2 linked regions of the Homo sapiens genome follow. The protein of the gene in region 1 binds, or shares a complex with, the protein of each later gene. Each region holds a gene or a part of one and is shown on either strand. Other genes may lie near its edges.

Region 1 (10,448 bases):
CACTCAGTTTTGCAGGGTTCAGTGGCTCAGTGAGCCGAGATTGCACCACTGCACCCCAGCCTGGGTGACAGAGAGACCCCATCTCAAAAAATAAAAAATAAAAATAAGGCCGGGTGTGGTGGCTCAACGCCTGTAATCCCAGCACTTTGGGAGGCTGAGGCGGACGGATCATGAGGTCAGGAGTTCGAGACCAGCCTGACCAACATGGTAAAACCCCGTCTCTACTAAAAATACAAAAATTAGCCGGGTCTGGTGGTGCCTGCCTGTAATCCCAGCTACTTGTGAGGCTGAGGCAGGAGAATTGCTTGAACCCAGGAGGCAGAGGTTGCAGTGACCCGAGATCGCACTACTGCACTCCAGCTTGGGCAACAGAGTGAGACTCAGTCTAAAAAATCATAAATAAATAATAAAAAGAAAAGCACCTGGTTGCAGTGCTGTTAAATTGATTGAGGCCTTAAAATTTGTATTTATCATACTGAATTTATTTTGACTTTGCCTGCTATCAAATTTTCTTTCTTGCAGTGGATTGTATTACACAGAGCATGAATATACTTCTTTAGGTTACACGCATGGGGAGATACTCTGGAGGAAGCATTTGAGCAATGTGCAATGGCCATGTTTGGTTACATGACAGATACTGGGACAGTGGAGCCCCTCCAAACAGTAGAAGTAGAAACCCAAGGTAAATGATTTATTCACAAGGAAGAAATTGTTATACAGTACTGTATAGAATTGTGCAGTATTCTACATAATCTGAGTATATTTTCACAAAAAGAACCAGAAAATTAAGGATGAGTCTTTTCTTTCTCTTTAAACTGACCTAAGACATTTATTTATTGCACTTTTAAATTCAAGTATGTTTTTAGAGACCAGAATTATTAAATATACTATTTGATCTTGTGTAGGAGATGACTTACAGTCTCTTCTGTTTCACTTTTTGGATGAATGGCTTTATAAGTTCAGTGCTGATGAATTCTTCATACCCCGGGTAAGCAAAGGTTTTTCTTTTTTACTGAGCAAATGGATTCTTAGTTCATATTTTAAAATAGAACAGATGATTTAAAATAGGACATGTGAAACAAAACCAATCCATACAAATAAGATGATACTGATTTGCAGAGATTATAATGACCACGGGCACTTCCTGGTTAACCTGCATTTGCCTATGTGGGAACATTTCGTATTTAGATCTCATGTATTTGTCACTAATCAGGATTGTGTGATAAAAATGTACCTACAGTTTTCATCCACATTTTTTTCTGTTTTTGTTTTTGATAGAGACAGGGTGTTGCTATGTTGTCGAGGCTAGTCTTGAACTCCTAGCTTCCGGCAATCCTCCTGCCTCAATTTTGCAAAGTGCTGGGATTACAGGTGTGAGCATTGCACGCAGCCTCATCCACACTTTTTATGTTTCCCAAGTTTGAGCTATATTTATGTCCATCCATTTTTTCCTTTTGTTCCATGAAATTTAGTAGCCCTGTCACATTGGCCTAAGTTAAACAACTGCAGCTTTTAGTTTTCCTTAACATGAAAAAAGGAAAAGCCAAATGGAGATTGCTTGCTGCTGTCATCCTTTAGAAGGGAACACATCTGCAATGTCATTGTTATTTAATAGAGATGGCACTCTCTGCTTTTATAATTCCTCCATTCTCTGCTTTACCAGCTTCACTACTTATACTCATTCTATCAACTGAGTCACTCATCCTACAGAATTCAAGTGCCTACCAGTAGTTTATTAGGCTCAGAGTGATTGAAATCCTATGTCGTCCTCCTCCACCATATATCTGTTTTCCCCCAGCGTTAAACAACAGCTTTTATTGAAGTGGCAGTGTACAGCAGCGGCAGAGGTACTGCCCCTGTGTGCCCAGAGTAGTTCTCTACCATATATCTTGCAGAGAAATTCTTTTGACTCATATTTTTAGATCTTACATTTTTCTAGAATACCTCCCTTGAATATGTAAGAAAAAACTTATTTCCTTGAAATATATTTAATACTCAGCTTGGGCAACATGGCGAAACTCCCTGTCTCAAAAAAAACAAAAAAACAATAATTATCTGGGCGCAGTGGCACATGCCTGTGGTCCCAGCTACTCCAGAGGCTGAGGTGGGAGGATTGCTTGAGCTCGGGAGGTGAAGGTTGCAGTGAGCCAAGATCATGCCATGGCACTCCAGACTGGGCAACAGAGTGAAACCTTGTCTCAAACAAACAAACAAAAAAAACTGCATACATATATATCTCATTTGTTGTCCTATTTTAGCTAACATTTTAATTTTCTTTGCTTCACAGAAGTTGTGTGCTATTGTTTTCTAGAAAAGGTTGTAAAGGCCAGGCGCGGTGGCTTACGCCTGTAATCCCAGCACTTTGGGAAGCCGAGGCAGGTGGATCACCTGAGGTCAGGAGTTCGAGACCAGTCTGACCAATAAGGTGAAACCCCGTCTCTACTAAAAATACAAAAAAAATTGATTGGCCGGGCGTGGTGGCAGGCGCCTGTAGTCCCAGATGCTCAGCAGGTTGAGACAGGAGAATTGCTTGAACCTGGGAGGTGGAGGTTGCAGTGAGCCGAGATCACGCCACTGTACTCCAGCCTGGGCGATGGAGTAAGGCTCCATCTCAAAAAAAAAAAAAAAAAAAAAAAAAAAGGTTTTACCAATTTTTAGTAGATGGTCCAAAAAAACAAAACAGAACAAAAAGATTTTTAGTAGATAGTCTATTATGAACTTTTTTTAATTAAAAAATTTTTCTTCCTGTCTAGGAAGTGAAAGTACTTAGCATTGATCAAAGAAATTTCAAATTACGATCAATTGGGTAAGTTTTGAAAGTCTTTTAAGTACCGAGTTAAAGTTATATTCTTCATTGAATTCAATGAGCAAGGAAACAGATGGAAACATAAATCAGAGGGCCACTTGCAGATTGAGTTTTGTGGGATGTCTAAGGGCTTGGAAGGACCAGAAACTTAACAAAATAAAGTTGATTTTAATTGTTAAATCTGATTCCCAATTTGTTGATTTTTTAGGGAGAGAATATGTGTAATTGCTAAATGGCACAGCATAAAGCCCAGCTTAGTGGATGGGAAACACTGACACTTTTTTTCTCATATGTTCTCACTTCTAGACCTATTTAAATCAATTCCTTCTTTTAACAAATCGTACTTTTATTTTCCTTCCAGAGTTTGCAAACACTTGATTAGGTCACTTTGATTGGACTTGTTTCTCAGGTTTCTTTAGTCACTTAATTATATTTTTTAGGTTTTTTCTTTTTTTTCTTTTTTTTTTTTTTTGATACAGGGTCTTGTTCTGTCTCCCAGGCTGGAGTACAGTGGTGTGGTCATGGCTCACTGCAGCTTCAGCCTCCTGGGCTCAAGGGATCCTCCCACCTCAGCCTCCTGAATAGCTGGGACCACCAAGTGTGCCACTATGCCTGGCTGACTTTTTTGTTTTCTGAAGAGATGGGGTCTCCCCATGTTGCCCAGGCTGGTCTCAAACTCCTGGGCTCAAGCAGTCCTCTGGCCTCTGCCTCCCAAAGTGCTGAGGTAATAGGCATGAGCCACTGTGCCTGGCCCTCCTAGGTTACTTTTACATATAGCTTTTTTATTTTATTTTCATTTATTATTTATTTATTTATTTTTGAGACAGAGTCTCGCTCTGTTGCTCAGGCTGGAGTGTGTGATCTCAGCTCACTGCAACCTCCACCTCCTGGGTTCAAGCGATTCTTCTGCCTCAGCCTCCCGAGTAGCTGAGATTATACGCGCCTGCTACCACGCCTGGCTAATTTTTTGTATTTTTAGTATAGACGGGGTTTCACTGTGTTGGCCAGGCTGGTCTGAAGCTCCTGACCTCAGGTGATCTGCCCGCATCAGCCCTCCCAAAGTGTCGAGATTACAGGCTTGAGCCACTGTGCCCGGCCTCATTTATTTTTTTAGAAATGGGTTCTCATTCACTATGTTGCCCAGGCATCCTCAAACTCCTGGGCTCAAGTGATCCTCCTGCCTTGGCCTCCTGAGTAGCTGGGACAACAGGTGCATACCACCACGCCCGGCTCCATTTAATTTAATTTAATTTGATTGATTGATTGATTGATTTGAGACAGGGTCTTGCCCTGTCCCCCAGGCTGGAGTGCAGTGGTGTAATCATGGCTCACTGCAGCTTTGAACTCCTGGGTTCAAGTGATCCTCCTTTCTCAGCCTCCCAAGTAGCTGGGACTACAGGTGCGCACTACCATGCCCAGCTAATTTGTTGTTGTTGAGACAGAGTCTTGCTCTGTTGCCCAGGCTGGAGGGCAGTGGTGCAGTCTTGGCTCGCTGCAACCTCTGCCTCCAGAGTTCAAGCGATTCTCCTGCCTGAGCCTCCTGAGTAGCTGGGATTACAGGCGCCTGCCACCATGCCTGGCTAATCTCAGCTAATTTTTAATTTTTTATAGAGATGGGGTCTTGCTATGTTGCTAGGCTGGTCTCTAACTCCTGTGGCCCCATTTTATATTGAATTTCATTCACTTCTTTTTGTAAAGTGAGATCTTTTATTATCTTCTCTGTGTTTTTGTTTTGTTTTGTTTTTTGTTGTTTTTTAATGAGTAAAGAAACAGGCTTGCTGGGTGCAGTGGCTCACGCCTGTAATCCCAGCACTTTGGGAGGCCGAGGCGGGCAGATCAGGAGGTCAAGAGATTGAGACCATCCTAGCCAACATGGTGGAACCCCATCCCTACTAAAAATACAAAAATTAGCCAGGTGTGGTGGTGGGCACCTGTAATCTGAACTACTCAGGAGGCTGAGGCAGGAGAATCGCTTGAACCCAGGAGGCAGAGGTTGCAGTGAGCCAAGATTGTGCCACTGCACTCCAGCCTGGCAACAGCGCGAGACTCTGGCTCAAAAAAAAAAAAAAAAAAAAAAGAAACAAGCATGTCCAAAAGTACTAGCTAATAAGTGTTTGAACAGAATTTTAAAGCTTTGCTCTTTCTATTATACCACGTTGTGATCTTCACTCACATTAGTGTCAAAGACAGAGAGGAGACTGATCCTAAGTTCTAGATTACTTTTCTAGGGCCTTCTATATACAGATCATGGATATTTTTGGAAAAGTTGTAAAGTGTAAACCAAGTTCGGACTGTATTATAGAGTCTAGTATTTTGCCTTTGTGGTACTCAGACTTGCTTTCTCCAGTGGGAGGTATTATTTAATTAGTTTTTGTTTTTCTTTTTTGTTTTGTTTTTGTTGTTTTTGTTTTGAGAGAGGGTTTTGCTTTGTCTCTCAGCCTGGAGTGCAGTGGCATGATCATGGCTCACTGCAGCCATGACCTTTTGGGCTCAAGCAATCCTCCTACCTCAACCTCCCACCTAGCTAGGACAACAGACATATGCCACCATGCCTGGCTAATTTTTTTTTTTAATCTTTTGTAGAGACAGGGTCTCGCTACATTGCCCAGGCTGGTCTCAAACCCCTGAGCTCAAGCTATCTTCCTGCCTCAGTCTCCCAAAGTGCTGAGATTACAGGTGTGAGCCACCGCACCCAGCCTACTTAACTAGTTTCATAACTGAGGATAGTAAAAATTTTGAATATGTTACTACTCTGTTTTGAAACAATATTTACTAAACAATGTTTATTGAGATTCCACCATAGGTACACTATATTGGGGCACATTTATTTTGAGATCAACTATCAACCTTTTTTTAAAGTTTTTAAAATTAATTTTTTGTTTGTTTGTTTTTTAGACAGTCTCACTCTGTTGCCCAGGCTGGGAGTGCAATGATGTGATCTTGGTTCACTGCAATGTCCGCCTCCCAGATTCAAACCATTCTTGTGCCTCAGCCTCCCGAGTAGGTGGGACCACGGGCGCATGGAACCATGCCTGCCTAATTTTTGTATTTTTAGTAGAGACGAGTTCTCACCATGTTGGCCAGGCTGGTCTTGAACTCCTGGATTCATCTACCTCTGCCTCCCAAAGTGCTGGGATTACAGGTGGGAGCCACTGTGCCTGGCCACTAGAATTAAATTTTTTTTTTTTTTTGAGACAGAGTCTCGCTCTGTTGCCCAGGCTGGAGTGCAGTGGCATGATCTCAGCTCACTGCAATCTCCGCCTCCTGGCTCAAGCGATTCTCCTGCCTCAGCCTCCTGAGTAGTTCGGATTACAGGTGCCTACCACCACGCCTGGCTAATTTTTGTATTTTTAGTAGAGACAGAGTTTCATCATGTTGGCCAGGCTGGTCTTGAACTCCTGACCTCAGGTGATCCGCCTACCTCGGCCTCCCAAAGTGCTGGGATTACAGGCATGAGCCACCGCGCCTGACCTTTTTCATTTCGCTCTGTTGCCTAGGGTGGAGTGCAGTGGCGCGATCTTGGCTCACTGCAACCTCCACCTCCTGGGTTCAAGCGATTCTCCTGCCTCTGCCTCCCAAGTAGCTGGGATTACAGACATGCGCCACCACGCCCGGCTAATTTTGTGTTTTTAGTAGAGACAGGGTTTTTCCATGTTGGTCAGGCTGGTCTCAAACTGCCGACCTCAACTGCCGACCTCAGATGATCCACCTGCTTCGGCCTCCCAAAGTGCTGGGGTTACAGGCATGAGCCACCGCGCCTGGCCTATAATTAAAAATTCTTTTGAAACACAGTCTTGCCCTGACACCCAGGCTAGAGTGCGGTGGTGCAATCACAGCTCACTGCAGCCTTGACTTCTGGGCTCAAGCAATCTTCCTGCCTCCTCCTCGTGAGTGGCTGGGACCACAGGCATGTGCCACCACACCCAGCTAACTTTTTTTATTTTTTTAATTTTGTGTACAGATGAGGTCTCCCTATGTTGCTCAGGCTGTTCTCAAACTCCTGGGCTCAAGCGATCCTCCCTTTGGCCTCCGGAAGTGCCAGGATTATAGGTATGAGCCACCGCACCTGGCCTTAACTATCAACCTTGAGAGCAAATGATGACACTGCACACACGTCCCTCAACAGCTGTATCTTCTGACAAATGAAAATGAAACTTAACAGCTCCCTGACCCCCTCCTGTCTCTTTTGGCTTTCTAGCATGTTAACCACATTTACAAGGCTTATTTTAAAACATATAAAGAGAGAACAAATCTTAATCATGTTTTAATTTGTATTCTCAAGGTGGGGAGAAGAATTTTCATTGTCCAAGCACCCTCAGGTATGTTTTAAAATCCAGCCATTAAGAACATGAAAAATTTCCTTACCATAAAGTTCATATATGTGACAATCAACTTCAGTTAGTTCTAACTGGTGTAAAGTGATAAGTTTTTCTCAAGCTTCTCTGACCTGTCTGGATATATTTTGTTAAAATACTGTGATTATACACACCTGATTTAGTGGATGAGGCGTCAGCATTGGGTTCTAGGGTCAAGTTTGTTCAGATTATTGTGGAATTTGAAATTCTCTTTGCCTTTTTGACCTTTATTTCTTCTCCTATAATAAAGATGTTGGACTAGATGTTCTCTATTGTGCCTTCTACTTTCTGTGTGTCTCTAGATTCTGTATTTGCCGACCTGTATGGCCTCACTCTATGGTAGGAAAATCTATTGGAACAGGAGTTGGCAGTTTTTTTCTGTAAAATGGACAGATAATAAATGTTTTAAGATTTGTGGGCCCAGAATGACAGAAGAGCAGCTACTCAGTGCTTCTGTTGTAGCACCAAAGTAGCCATAGATAATACTTAAATGAATGAGTTCACTTGTATTCTAGTAAAACTTATTTATGCCCATTGAAATTTGAATTTCTTATCATTTTCAAATGTAACAAAATGTCATTGTTTTGATTTTTTTCCCCAACCATTTAAAAATGTAAAAATCAGGGCAGGCATGGTGGCTCAGACCTGTAATCCCAGCACTTTGGGAGGCCAAGGCAGGCAGATCGCTTTAGGTCAGGAGTTTGAGACCAGCCTGGCCAACATAGTGAAACCTAGCCTCTACTAAAAATACAAAAATTAGCTGGGCGTGGTGGCACGCGCCTGTAATCCTAGCTGCTCAGGAGGCTGAGGCAGGAGAATCACTTTAACCTGGGTGGCAGAGGTTGCAGTGAGCCGAGATCATGCCACTGCACTCCAGCCTGGGTGACAGAGCGAGACTGGTCTCAAAAAAATAAAATAAAAGTAAATAAATAAAGATGTAAAAATCACTCTTACTTTATGGGACTGTACAAAAAGAGGCAATTTGGCCTGTGGGCTATATATATTTTGCTGACCCCTGTGTTTAGGCCAGATACAGACAGGTCACTTAACTACTGGGATACATTCTGAGAAATGCATCTTTAGGCGATTACATCATTGTGCAAACATCATGGAGTGTACTTACACAAACCTAGATGCTATAACCTATGCTATATGGTATAGCCTATTGCTCCTAGGCTATGAACCTGTACAGCATGTTACTATACTGAATACTATAGGCAGTTGTTACACATTGGTAAATATTTGTGTATTTATATTTCTAAATACCAAAAAAAGGTATAGTAAAAATACAGTATTATAGGCCCGGCGTGGTGGTTCACGCCTGTAATCCCCGCATTTTGGGAGGCCGAGGTGGGTGAATCACCTGAAGTCAGGAGTTCTAGACCAGCCCGGCCAACGTGGTGAAACCCCATCTCTACTAAAAATACAAAAATTAGCTGGGTGCGGTGGCGGGCGCTTGTAATCCCAGCTATTCGGGAGGCTGAGGCAGGAGAATCGCTTGAACCTGGGAGGCAGAGGTTGCAGTGAGCGGAGATCACGCCATTGCACACTCCAGCCTGGGCGACAAGAGCAAAACTCCATCTAAAAAAAAAAAAAAGAAACAGCATTATAATCTTCTCAGACCACCATCATATATGCAGTTAGTCATTGACCAAAATGTTATGCGGCACATAACTGTATTCTAAATTCATATTTGTCATTGGAAGTGTTCAGAATGGATTGTGAGCAAATTAATTTCATTTATTCCTAAGAGTTTTTGTTTATGTGAGACAGTGCCTTGCTGTGTTGCCCAGGCTGATCCGAAACTCCTAGTCTCAAGCAATCCCCCCACTTCAGTCTCCTGAGTAGCTGAGCTTACAGGTGCACACCACCAATTCCAGCTTGGTACTCCTAACAGTTTTTGTTTTGTTTTGTTTTGTTTTGTTTTGTTTTGTTTTTGAGACGGAGTCTCATGCTATTGCCCAGGCTGGAGTGCAGTGGCACGATCTCAGCTCACTGCAACCTCCGCCTCCCAGGTTCAAGCGATTCTCCTGCCTCAGCCTCACAAGTAGCTGTGATTACAGGCACATGACGCCATACCTGGCTAATTTTTTGTATTTTTAGTAGAGATGGGGTTTCACCATGTTGGCCAGGCTGATCTCGAACTCCTGAGCTCAGGTGATTTACCTACCTCAGCCTCCCAAAAGAGGCGTGAGCCATCGCGCCCAGCCAACAGTTTTTTTTATTATTATTATTCTTTCTTTTTTTTTTTGAGACAGTCTCACCCTGTCACCCAGGCTGGAGTGCAGTGACGTGACCTCTACTCACTGCAACCTCCCCCTCCCAGGTTCAAGCGATTCTCGTGTCTCAGCCTCCCGAGTAGCTGGGATTACAGGCCCATGCAACCATGCCAGGCTAATTTTTGTATTTTAGTAGAGACTGGGTTTCACCATGTTGGCCAGGCTGGTTTCGAACTCCCGACCTCAGGTGATCCACCCACCTTGGCCTCCCAAAGTGCTGGGATTATAAGCGTGAGCCACTGCACCCAGCTACTTCTTATTTTTTGAATGAATGATCAAATAACTCTTTTTTTTTTTTTGAGATGGAGTCTTACTCTGTTGCCCAGGCTGGAGTGCAGTGGTGTAATCTCAGCTCACTGCAACCTCCACCTCCCAGGTTCAAGCGATTCTCCTGTCTCTGCCTCCTGAGTAGCTGGGATTACAGGTGTATGCCACCACAGCCGGCTAATTTTTGTATTTTTAGTAGAGGTGGGGTTTCACCATGTTGGTCAGGCTGGTCTCAAACTCCTGACTTCAGGTGATCCACCTGCCTCGGCCTCCCAAAGTGCTGAGATTACAGGCATGAGCCACTGGGCCCAGCCAATCAACTTTTCAAAGCAAAAAGGAATGTTTTACAAATAGCTTATTAAAACATCTGGTTCCTGGAATATTTCTTGGTTTAAAAATACCTTCCTGGTTTTAATACTGTCTTTACCTTCTCTCCATGAATCCATATGCCATCCATCCATGAATTTATGCATGCATTCAGCAAATACTTATCAAGTGCCTCCAGTGTTTCAGACTTTTTTTTATGCACTCGAGGTAGAAATGTAATAGGATAAGCGAAGTCTCTGCCCTTACTGAGTTTAAAATGTAGTGGGAGAAGTGAGCCAGACAAACATGTAAACACATAATATAATTTCAGATAGTGAACAGTGCCATCAGGATAAGGTAAGAGTGGTTGGAGGAGGGGAGGGGGTAGTCAGAAAATATATGTTTATTAACCCATTCTCACGCTGCTGATAAAGA
Region 2 (10,448 bases), on another chromosome or scaffold:
TTACTGCCAATGCCTCTATACTACTACTATTAATACTACTGTATTCTTTTCCTTTGCTCTTAGAAAATATTTTTAAAATTTTCAGTGGACTTCTTAAAACTTTGAAATATATTTTTAGGATTTTATGTTTGTTTATATTACATTTTATGGTCTATTCATGTGTACAAGACAGTACAGAATTCTGCATGTAGAAAGGTATCTGGAGAATATAAAAAATTGTCTAGGCTGGGCACGGTGGCTCATGCCTATAATCCAAGCAGTTTGGGAAGCCAAGATGGGTGGATCACCTGAGGTCAGGGGTTCGAGACCAGCCGGGCCAACGTGGCGAAACCCCGTCTCTACTAAAAACACAAAATTAGCCAGGTGTGGTGGCGCATGTGTGTAATCTCAGCTGCCCAGGGGGCTGAGCCAGGAGAATCATTTGAACTCAGGAGGCGGAGGTTGCAGTGAGCCAAGATTGTGCCATTGCACTCCAGCCTGGGCAACAGAACAAGACTCTGTCTCAAAAAAAAGAAATATGTATGTATGTGTGTGTATATATGTACATATACACACACGTATTTCTGATGTGAAACACCTGGAATGACAGTAAGAATAATTTCAACATATCAGAACCTAAACAGTTATTATCCTTCAAGTTGATTTTATTATAATCTTATATTACATATAATTAATGTTACATATAATACTATTATATGCAACATTTATTTGAATATACAGCTTCTGACATTTATTTAAATTACTTGGTTACACCCTACATGTATGTTACATGGCTACTCTTTTCAGTGGCATTTCCATAATATGAAAGTTAAGGTTTAGATAGATAATGATTTATTGTATATCCTTTTTAAAGTTATTCTTTTTAGTTAATTGCTCTATGTGTATTGAGACTAGGAATCAGAAAGCTTAGATTCTAGTCCCAGGTGTAAGTTGTGTAACCCTTGGCAAGTGTCAATCTCTAGGCCTCAGCTTTCTCATCTATAAAATGAGGAAGTTGTCGTATTCTATTTTTTTTCTTAAGATGATACACTTAAATGTTCCCTTCTGTTGGGTTATATAATTGCATCAAAAGTGTAGTAATGTTATTAAAAAATTGTTAGAGATCCAAACTAAGGTCTCTTTCAACTCTCCCATTCTTTTTTCTGTGACTTTATGGTAATAATGAAACTGGTGGTTTTCTTTTCTTCCCCCTCACAGTATCTCAGAGATGTTAACTGTCCTTTCAAGATTCAAGATCGACAAGAAGCTATTGACTGGCTTCTTGGTTTAGCTGTTAGACTTGAATATGGAGATAATGGTACGTTTTGTGGGGAATGTGTATTTTAAAGAGAGAGGAAAGATGGGAAAGGGAGTGTGAAAATGTAGGGAACTTTGCAGTTTGTTTTGTCTAGTACTATTTTACCTTTGGTTTATTCTTATCACAAGTTAAAAGCACTTTTATTGTCTTTCATTGGTGTTTATATATTTCTGTTAGAATTTGGAAATGGTGCCCTCTGGAGAAGGCTAATTGACTGTCTTCTCACAGAGTAACACTACTTTGATAATATGGTCTGCACCTTAGCCTTTCAAATTAAATTGTTTTTAGTGTCCCAGAATTGATGGGACTTTGAAGTGTTGTTGCAGTAGGTAATTTCTCAAAAGACTGAAACATGTCTAATGCCAATATACATTAATACTCTATAGGCCAGAATATATTACTTATGTTTACTGTCTTAGCACAGATACTTCTATGGTTGGAAGCTTCTGAATGTTAGTACCTATAGTAAAAACAATTTTTCTTTAAACGGGTGTTTTCTCTTATTAGACCATTTCATTTTGAAAGGCCTGCCAACATCTAAATGCAAGATTTGATTATCTTATCTGCATCCCCTGCATTTTGTGTTTTTCGGTTAGTTACAGTCTTCTTAATTATTTACTTTGGAAGCCTTTTTATATCTTGGCTTATCCCTTTCCCTTCATCCCACCTACACTGACTTTTTCTCATGTTTGTTGTATCTTCATTCCCATTGGCATAATCCTAATTCAGGCTCTTGTCACTTTCTGCCAGGAGTATTATAATATCTCCCATTAGTGTCACCTTCTGTTCTTAACTGCATGGCCAACCAAGCTAACTTTCTGAAACGTTAATCTATTTTAGGATGCCACTTACTCCTTGTTTCCAAAGAACAGTTCCAGTTACATATTCATATTAATAAACATACATATCCATAAACACTAATTTCCCATTTTCTATAAAAAGAATTTTAAGCTCCTTAGCATGGTAGTTAATGATGACTGATATCCAACCTGTATTCACATCTTGACATCCCAGCTAAATTAGAATAATAGTGCTTCCTGTTTATATCCCATTTCCCCCTCTGTTTCTTTGTTCACACTTTTCCCTTGGCTAATATACCATTTCATTCTATCTACACATCTAAATCCTACCCATCTTTTTAAGATCCATCTCATATGCTGTCTTATGTCTTAGCAGCAGTATAATTTCCCTCTGAACTTCCATAGCTTTTAACCCTATACATTTTAAGTCATTAACCACTTTCCATTTTGCTTCTATGTCTTATTCGTCCCAGTAATTTGTAAACTGATACTCAGCTTTGATTCCTACATGGTACCTCTCTTAGCTTCCAATTGATGCTGTAACAAATTACTACAAACTCAGTGACTGAAAACACAATTTATTATTTTAGAATGAGAAGGCCAACATTAGCCTCACTGGGTTCATGTCAAGTTGTCAGCAAGGCAGGTTCCTTTTGGAGGCTCTCGGGGGAATCTGTTTCTTTCCTTTTTTAACTTCTAGAGGCTGCCTGAATTCCTTGACTCTGGCCCCTTCTTCCTTCTTCAAGTCTAGCAGCATAGCATTTTCCAGTCTCTTATCTGATTCTGCTTCCATTGTCATAACTTTGTCTCTGGCTCTGATCCTCCTGAGCCCACCTGGATAATCCAGGATAATCCCCTATCTCAAGATCCTTAATTTTATCATATTTGCAAATCTTGCCATGTAAGGTAACACATACACAGGTTCCAGGGATCAGGACATGGACATCTTGGGGGGTACAGGTCAATATTGTGTCTGTCACAGTACCTGACATAGTTTCTTGCACACAACAGGTGCTTATCAATTTCAGTAATGTGTGGCGAATGCAGTATATGTGAGTGTTTACATACACTGATTTGGAGCATCAGCCAATTTTTTGCTGATGCCTCAGACTTAAATTTCAGAAGCCTTATGGCAAAAATCTTAAGGAAAGCTCAATTTGAGACTTCGTTTACTTTTCCATTTAATTTAAAAAAAAAAAACTTTTCTTTCTTTAGAAAATACATGTATTCATAAGCCTTATGGCTTTAGTGTAGTATTGATTTTAGGGCCTTTAACAAGGTCTTTTTATCTACCCTGCTCTGGATTGGTAGGAATTGTATATGAGCCAATTTGTAGCTTATCAAAACTGTTTTTCATTTATTCCCAAATTCTTACATCTCAGTTTATTTGTTTTATTCTATTTGTTCCATTTTTATAACCCGTTAACCTTCAATGGTAGATGCATATGGTCATGTATACCTGCAGTTGACTTTAGTAAGTACATGTATTTCTCAGTAATAGCATGTTCTTTTAGTGAATAAAAGAAGCTTGTGTGTGGAATGTAAATTTTTCAATATTGAAAAAGGAAGTCAACATATACTTGAAGGTGAATGGTATCAAAAGTATATTAAAAGTCTAAGCTAGAAAACAAGTTTTGTTTATTAAAATTCAGAATTGCAAAAACAGACTTGAAAATTGGTCAAATAATACTGTCTCTAATCGGTAGGAGGCGCTGATGTTCTTTTGTGGTTTTACATTGATATGTTGCCTCCTTGACTTTTAAGTTACTTATTTTAAAATTTGCTGAAACCATTGTGAGTTTTTATTATTTGCGCTCTACTATTTTTTGAAGCCTTTTGGTAGCTTGTCAACATGATCAATAACTGAAATTTTTTAAATGTATAATTTCAGATGTATAGAAAAATTACAAAATAGTACAAAGATTTTCATATACCTCAAGTCTACAAATGTAGCGTGTTACCTCATTTGCTTCATCCTTCTCTCTACACAGAGGCACACACCATTTTTTTCCAAACCATTTGATAGTAAATTATAGATGATTCCTTTTTACTCTTAAACACTTTAAAGTGCATTTCCTAAAAACAACTTTGTCTTATATAACCACAGTACAGTGATCAAAATCAGGAAGTTATCTTTGATATACTATTATTTATTCACATTTTACCAAACCCCCCACTTCTCTCGAAAGAAAAAAATAACCCAGAGCAATCCTGGATTATGCACCGCATTAGTTGTTACATCTGTCTTAGTATCTTAAAATCTGGAACAGTTCCTGTCTTTATTTGTGCTTCATGACCCTGACATTTATTTTGTAGAGTGTCCCTCAATTTGGATTTATATGATGTTTCCTCATGATTAGATTTGGGGTTTATACTTTTGTTAGGAGTAACACAGAAGTGATGTGTTCTTTTTAGTGCATCATATTAGGAGATACGTGATAGCGATATGTCCCATTACTAGTTATGTTACTTTGATCACTAGGTTATGGTTTCTCCACTGTAAAGTTACTATTTTCCTCTTTGTAATAAATATATCTTGTGGGGAGGTACTTTGAGACTGTATCAATTATGTTTTTGCGCCTCAAGTTTCCCCCACTAGTTTTAGCAACCATATGATGATTCTTGCCTCAGTCATTTATTATGTTAATCGACAAAAGGTGTTCTCTAATTTCATCATTTTTTCTACATTTATTTGTTGGCTTTCTCTTGTAAGTTTTCCCATCTCTAATTTACTTGTTTAAATCAGTATAGATACATGGATTTTTATTTTATTCAATGGATTATAATCCTTTCTGTCATCACGTATTTTGCTGTTGATACTGTTCCAGATTTGGCCAGTGGAAGCCTTTTTAACTCTGACTTAAATTTTATGCTTTTATTTTTTCCTCGTTTCATTAACAGATCCCATAAGCACTGTATAGCCTAAGATGCCATTTTGAACATTAAGTTTAGTGAATTATTAATAAGTGTTTTTATTTTTGAATTCCTTTGAAGTATTGTTTTTCAAATGAAAATAATAAAATCTACCTTTGGAATTCTGAATTTCAAGTTTCCATGAAATAAGTTTGAGGTTTGTATATGATGGTGTATTTGATGTATTGATTTTTTTGGGGAAAGCAAGGTTTTTGGATTTTATGTACAGCATTCAAAAGAAGATGGGGGGAAGCGTACTTTTTAATGAGTTTGTATTTAATCTTACGTAACCTATACTTAACCCTCCTCCCATTCTTCTACCCCAGATTTCAGAGGAAGCTGTAAAAGCAGATTTTTACCTTCCTAAAATTTACATGTTTGAAATGATTGCCTTTAGAAATGTTAATGAAAAGATATTTGTGTCACATAGTCCAGTAATTGCTTTAGCTTAATCAAAAAGATAGTTACATTGTCTTTTTACATTTTCTATAGCAAAAATTAAGCTTGATTGAATGAATTGTTTTATGCTTATACAGGTTAAGCATCCCTAATCCGAGAATCTGAAATCCTAAATGCTCCAAAATCCAAAACTTTTTGAGCACTGACATGAGGACACAAGTAGAAATTTCCACACATAAGCACTTAACACAAACTTTATTTCATGCACAAAATTATTAAAAATATTATATGAAATTACCTTCAGGCTATGTGTATAAGTTGTACATTGAACATAAAAATGAATTTTGTGTTTAGACTTCAGTCCCATCCCCAAAATATCCCATTTTATATATGCAGATAATCCGAAGTCTGAAAAAATTTAAAATTGGAAATTATTGGCATTTCCAGTAAGGGAAACTCAACCTGTAATCATTTTGGCTCAGTTAAATTTGGTAAATAGCAGTAGTCATTTTACCTTGAGTTGCAGTTGTACAAATTATATTTTTGCCTGTTTTTATAGCTGAAAAATACAAGGATTTAGTACCTGATAATTCAAAAACTGCTGACAATGCAACTAAAAATGCAGAACCATTGATCAATTTGGATGGTGAGTATATAAATGCATAACATTGAACATCAACATTTTTGGTTTTTTAAATGTTTTTTTCTTTGAAGAATGAAGTCCAGGTTTACTTGGTTTTAGTAAATTTAGAAGGATCCATGCAGACAGCATTTATGTTAACATTTTATTCTCTATAATGTTTTTATGATGTGCTTTCTCCTTCCCCTTGCATTTGAATATCTGAATGTTGATTTGATTTGCTTCTAGTAATTTGGAGTTTTGATTTGTATTTAATCATGGGGGTCATTGTTTGCCTTTTTGAATGTGTAAATTTCTTTTAATCCAATGACTCTATCAGACAAGTGGTAAAATTTTCCATTATTTTAAGTCCTGGATATCTTTTAGTAATTTCCCTTTTTAAAAATATGAAGAATCTAATTACCTAAATTATGATGTGTAAAATATTTGTTCACTGGCTAATTCATTGTGACCTATAATTTAGGAGTTAACCCTTTTGAATGAGTGAGCCTCTTGGACACTCCAGAGCTGCTGCTTAGAGAGAAGGTTTTGGGAAAACTATCCATGGAGGGGATCTATGTACTAAAATTAATGGCCTTGGGAAGAAATGTTAATTAAAAGTGCTGTATAATTTAGCCTTGCAGAAAAAGTTACAGGACAAATATAATGTGAGTTAAATTAGTCATTTATTGGATTATTCAGTTTGGCTGATGAAATACAGATACTCCTTGACTTAGGATGAGATCATGTCCCAAAGTCGAAAATATCATAAGTCAAAAATGCATTTAATACCCCGGAAGACCCATTGTAAAGCTGAAAAATTGTAGTTGGAACCACTGTAAGTTCAGATTTTCCTCATCTTGCACTAGGGTTACATCCCACTGAACTCATTGTAAGGTCAAAAAATTACAAGTCTAACCATCCTAAGTTGGGGACCGTCTCATACAGTAATAGGAAAACCATTTTATCTTACCAATTTATTTAATTGTTGATAGTCTACAGGGCTTTCTTTTTTCTCTTGTGAGTAGCAGTTTTAAAAACTAAGAGATTTGTTGCTACCGAAAAGTTAAAAATGTTTTTGTATGTTCACAAATATGTTTGTAATTATACGTTTGCAGGGTTGTAAGTTTTTGTTTGTTTTTAATCTTTTATAGTAAATAATCCTGATTTTAAGGCTGGTGTGATGGCTTTGGCTAACCTGCTTCAGATTCAGCGTCATGATGATTACCTGGTAATGCTTAAGGTCAGCTTCATGTTCTTGATTCTTGACAGAAACTGTGCACATAGAAAAATGTCTTTATTTTCTAAATATTAACTATTGATATTAAAATTATGGTTGAATGACTAAAATACACAGAAGAATATGAAACATAAAGTAGATTTCATGGTTTTATCTGATTTGGATTCTGTTTTCTGCCTGCACTATGCTAAATCCTTTGCAAAGATGTTCTCATTCAATCCTGCCAACAATCCTAGAGACAGCTGCTAATATCTTTTTAAAAATATATATCATATGAAGAAACTGAGACTCAATGAGGATAATGTCTAAGATGACACAGAAAATGACAGAGCCAGGATTTTAAGCACTATAACCCTGTGGTCCATTGTTTTTCCCACATTACCCTACTTCTGTTTAGTTAGTCTTTTTAATGATTCATAGTCTGCATTTGTTAAGATGGTCGAAAATGCCAAATGAGTAATGGTGAATTTGGTCAAAAATATATAACCCCAAAATCTCTTTGAGAAATGAATCTTTCTGTCCCCGATGCTAGATAGGCCACTCAGTTCATAACTATACTTCAGGAATCCCAGTAATCTGAAAGAGGTCTCTTGTTTCTGAGAGAAATCATAAACTTCAGAAGATTTATTCCTAGTAATCGTGAAAGTACAGTGGTGTGGATCAGGGGAGTGGTACTTAAGATACCAGACTTGGAAATTTTATAAGAGATTAAAAGCTTTTAACTAGACCTTGTGCATGTAAACTACTTTGTGATAAATATCACTCTACCCAGAAGAGATTAAGCCATAACTTACCATGCTTTTTAGATTTTTATTATTAAATGTCAGTTTTAACAAGACTGTTGTATTCCTAAGTTATTAAAATTTTCTATACTGAATCTGAATGTTAACTTGGATTTTCTCAATCCAGATTGCATGCCAAAAGACAAAAATGTTTTTAGTGAAATTTAGCTATTTCAAAGGCTTGTTCTTTATTCCGACAATTATGTAAATTGCCTTGGAACTGTTCTATAGTGATCATGTCAGCTTTAATCATAAAGTAAGTGAGAGGAGAGTCAGACAATGCATAGCGTATTTGGGATGCTTTTGTTAGACTTCAAAACCCAAGGGGATAAAGTATAAATCAACTACAACAAAATGCTATAAAATTCTAGTCCTGCTGCACATTTGTCCCTTTTGAGTTATTTTAAGAGGCATTCAAACAATAACATAATATGGAAAACATCTTAGTACGTTTGCCAAGTACAAGCATCAGTATATTAACTGTTTGGCAACCAGACTATTTAATAACATCTGCAATAACTGTTAAACATTGTTTGAATTCGGTTTTTCAAAGATAGCATTTGGTTTTTTATTTAAAAATTATAGTTTAAGTTTTCACACTTATTTTTGAGTTGTAATTGTCATCTTCCTAATTAAAATTCCATTTTTTTAAAATTTGATTTTTAAGTGTGTATGGATACTTGCATGCATGCCTACCATAATGAAATGCCTTGGTGATTAAAACCACCAACGGTGTCCTTTGAAAGGTTTGAAAATATTTTACTAGAGTGAAGTGATAAAAGCAAAGTGTAAGACAGTATGTATGATCTGCTACCCTTTGTGTCAAAAATGTGTATTCGTGCTAAGCATGCTCGTCATTTCGCAGTTTTAGTGAGGGTAAGGAATCTGTAGGGGATCGCAAGGCTCAGGTAGGAAGGAGACCTACTTTTTACCATGTGTCTTGCTGTATTTAAAGTTGTTTTTTACCAGTCACGTGCATTACCTATTCAAAAAATGGTTTTAATTGTTGCAAGCACCATTCAACATTATTAAAATACTAGAAGTGTGAAAGGTTACGTTATATTAGTGGGTTTTTTTTATTTTTAATTTAATGGGGAGTTTATTAATGAACTTAGGTAATTCTGACTTCATCAAAATGAGCATCCTTATTCTCTGGGCTCATAGAAGAAAGGATGACAGGTACACAGCCTATAAAAAGTAAAAATATTTTTGGGTTTCTTAGGCAATTCGGATTTTGGTTCAGGAGCGCCTGACACAGGATGCAGTTGCTAAGGCAAATCAAACAAAAGAGGTACGTTTCTATAAATCCTAAATAAGTTGTTAATGAACATTTCTTCTGGTATGGCCGTGATTTTAAACTTTGCATGTATCTGTTTAAGATATCCATTCTACGTTCTACAACTTAGAGAAAGGATAGCTTACTTCAGTGCTTCCTAAAGCAAATTGAATGTATTCAGTGGCTAGGGGGTCATTTTTGAGTGAAAAACTTCATGTTCCTCTCACTTTGTACCTTAAAAAAGCCACAAATAGCTCATGCACAGTCCACAAATCATGCTTGTGGCCCGTTGAAGTTTATTTAAAATGAGTTACCCATATGAAACTTACTGGATTATTTTGACTCATGCTGGAGAAGAAGGAACACACCTCACTACAAATTAGTTTTCTTTTTCTATCTAAATTCTATCCTTGCTCTTATTTCTTCAGAGTAAATTCTTGTTTTATTCAATTTCCTGGCATAAAACATGAGAAAGTAATTTGGCTAAGGTCACCTAGTTGGTAAGTGACTGAGCTCAGGCAGTCTGACTTGAGAGCCTGTGCTCTTACGGTAGGTGGGGAGAAGGGTCCATGCGTGGATGTCTGCATGAGCTTGTCAGTCTGCCCAGGTGAAGGGACAGGGGGTTCTGTTGGAGTGTAAGGTTCAAGGTACAGGTGACTGAAATGGTATCTTTCAGTCCTACCTTGTAGGCTGAGAAAAGCTATATCCCATGACTACCTTCCCCTTAAAGAGAAAATATGGAACATTTTTAGATTATATCAGAAATCCAAAGATGCCTAAAGTTTCACTGGCTGTGCAGCGGTGGAGAGACTGTCCTCAGGTCAGCAGCAGCAGTGTCTGATAACACCTGCCTCCTGCAGCAATGATGTTGTAGTGAATGCCTTGGGCACAACTATGTTGTTTGTCCTCCCTGCGCCCTTCCCCCATCTCCCAATGCCTTTTGTCCTCCAGCCCCTTTAGGCAGGCCAAGCAGTGTTAAAAGGTTACTAATGCCAGGGCAGTATCTCTGAAAGACACTGTTTTCTTTTAAAGGTTCTTACTGGCTCGTTGTATATGAATCGAGCCACTGGAAGTTGGGTTAAAGATCAGCTTATTTCACCCTCCCTATAGAACAGACAGTAA

Evidence for each region.
Region 2: ZBTB8OS (region 1) and RTRAF share a complex: the UniProt entries of both Homo sapiens proteins name them as parts of the tRNA-splicing ligase complex.

What each region holds. Positions count from the first base shown.
Region 1 is NC_000001.11:32,624,185-32,634,632, reverse strand, and holds part of ZBTB8OS (protein archease), read left to right. Parts: intron 1-522; exon of another isoform or gene 523-560; coding exon 561-682; intron 683-905; coding exon 906-988; intron 989-1,278; coding exon of another isoform or gene 1,279-1,323; exon of another isoform or gene 1,324-2,054; intron 2,055-2,287; coding exon of another isoform or gene 2,288-2,311; exon of another isoform or gene 2,312-2,425; intron 2,426-2,753; coding exon 2,754-2,806; intron 2,807-6,767; coding exon of another isoform or gene 6,768-6,856; intron 6,857-7,088; coding exon 7,089-7,125; intron 7,126-10,448. UniProt on the Homo sapiens protein: Component of the tRNA-splicing ligase complex required to facilitate the enzymatic turnover of catalytic subunit RTCB. Together with DDX1, acts by facilitating the guanylylation of RTCB, a key intermediate step in tRNA ligation.
Region 2 is NC_000014.9:51,992,526-52,002,973, forward strand, and holds part of RTRAF (RNA transcription, translation and transport factor protein), read left to right. Parts: intron 1-1,197; coding exon 1,198-1,297; intron 1,298-5,968; coding exon 5,969-6,055; intron 6,056-7,182; coding exon 7,183-7,271; intron 7,272-9,272; coding exon 9,273-9,341; intron 9,342-10,448. UniProt on the Homo sapiens protein: RNA-binding protein involved in modulation of mRNA transcription by Polymerase II. Component of the tRNA-splicing ligase complex and is required for tRNA ligation.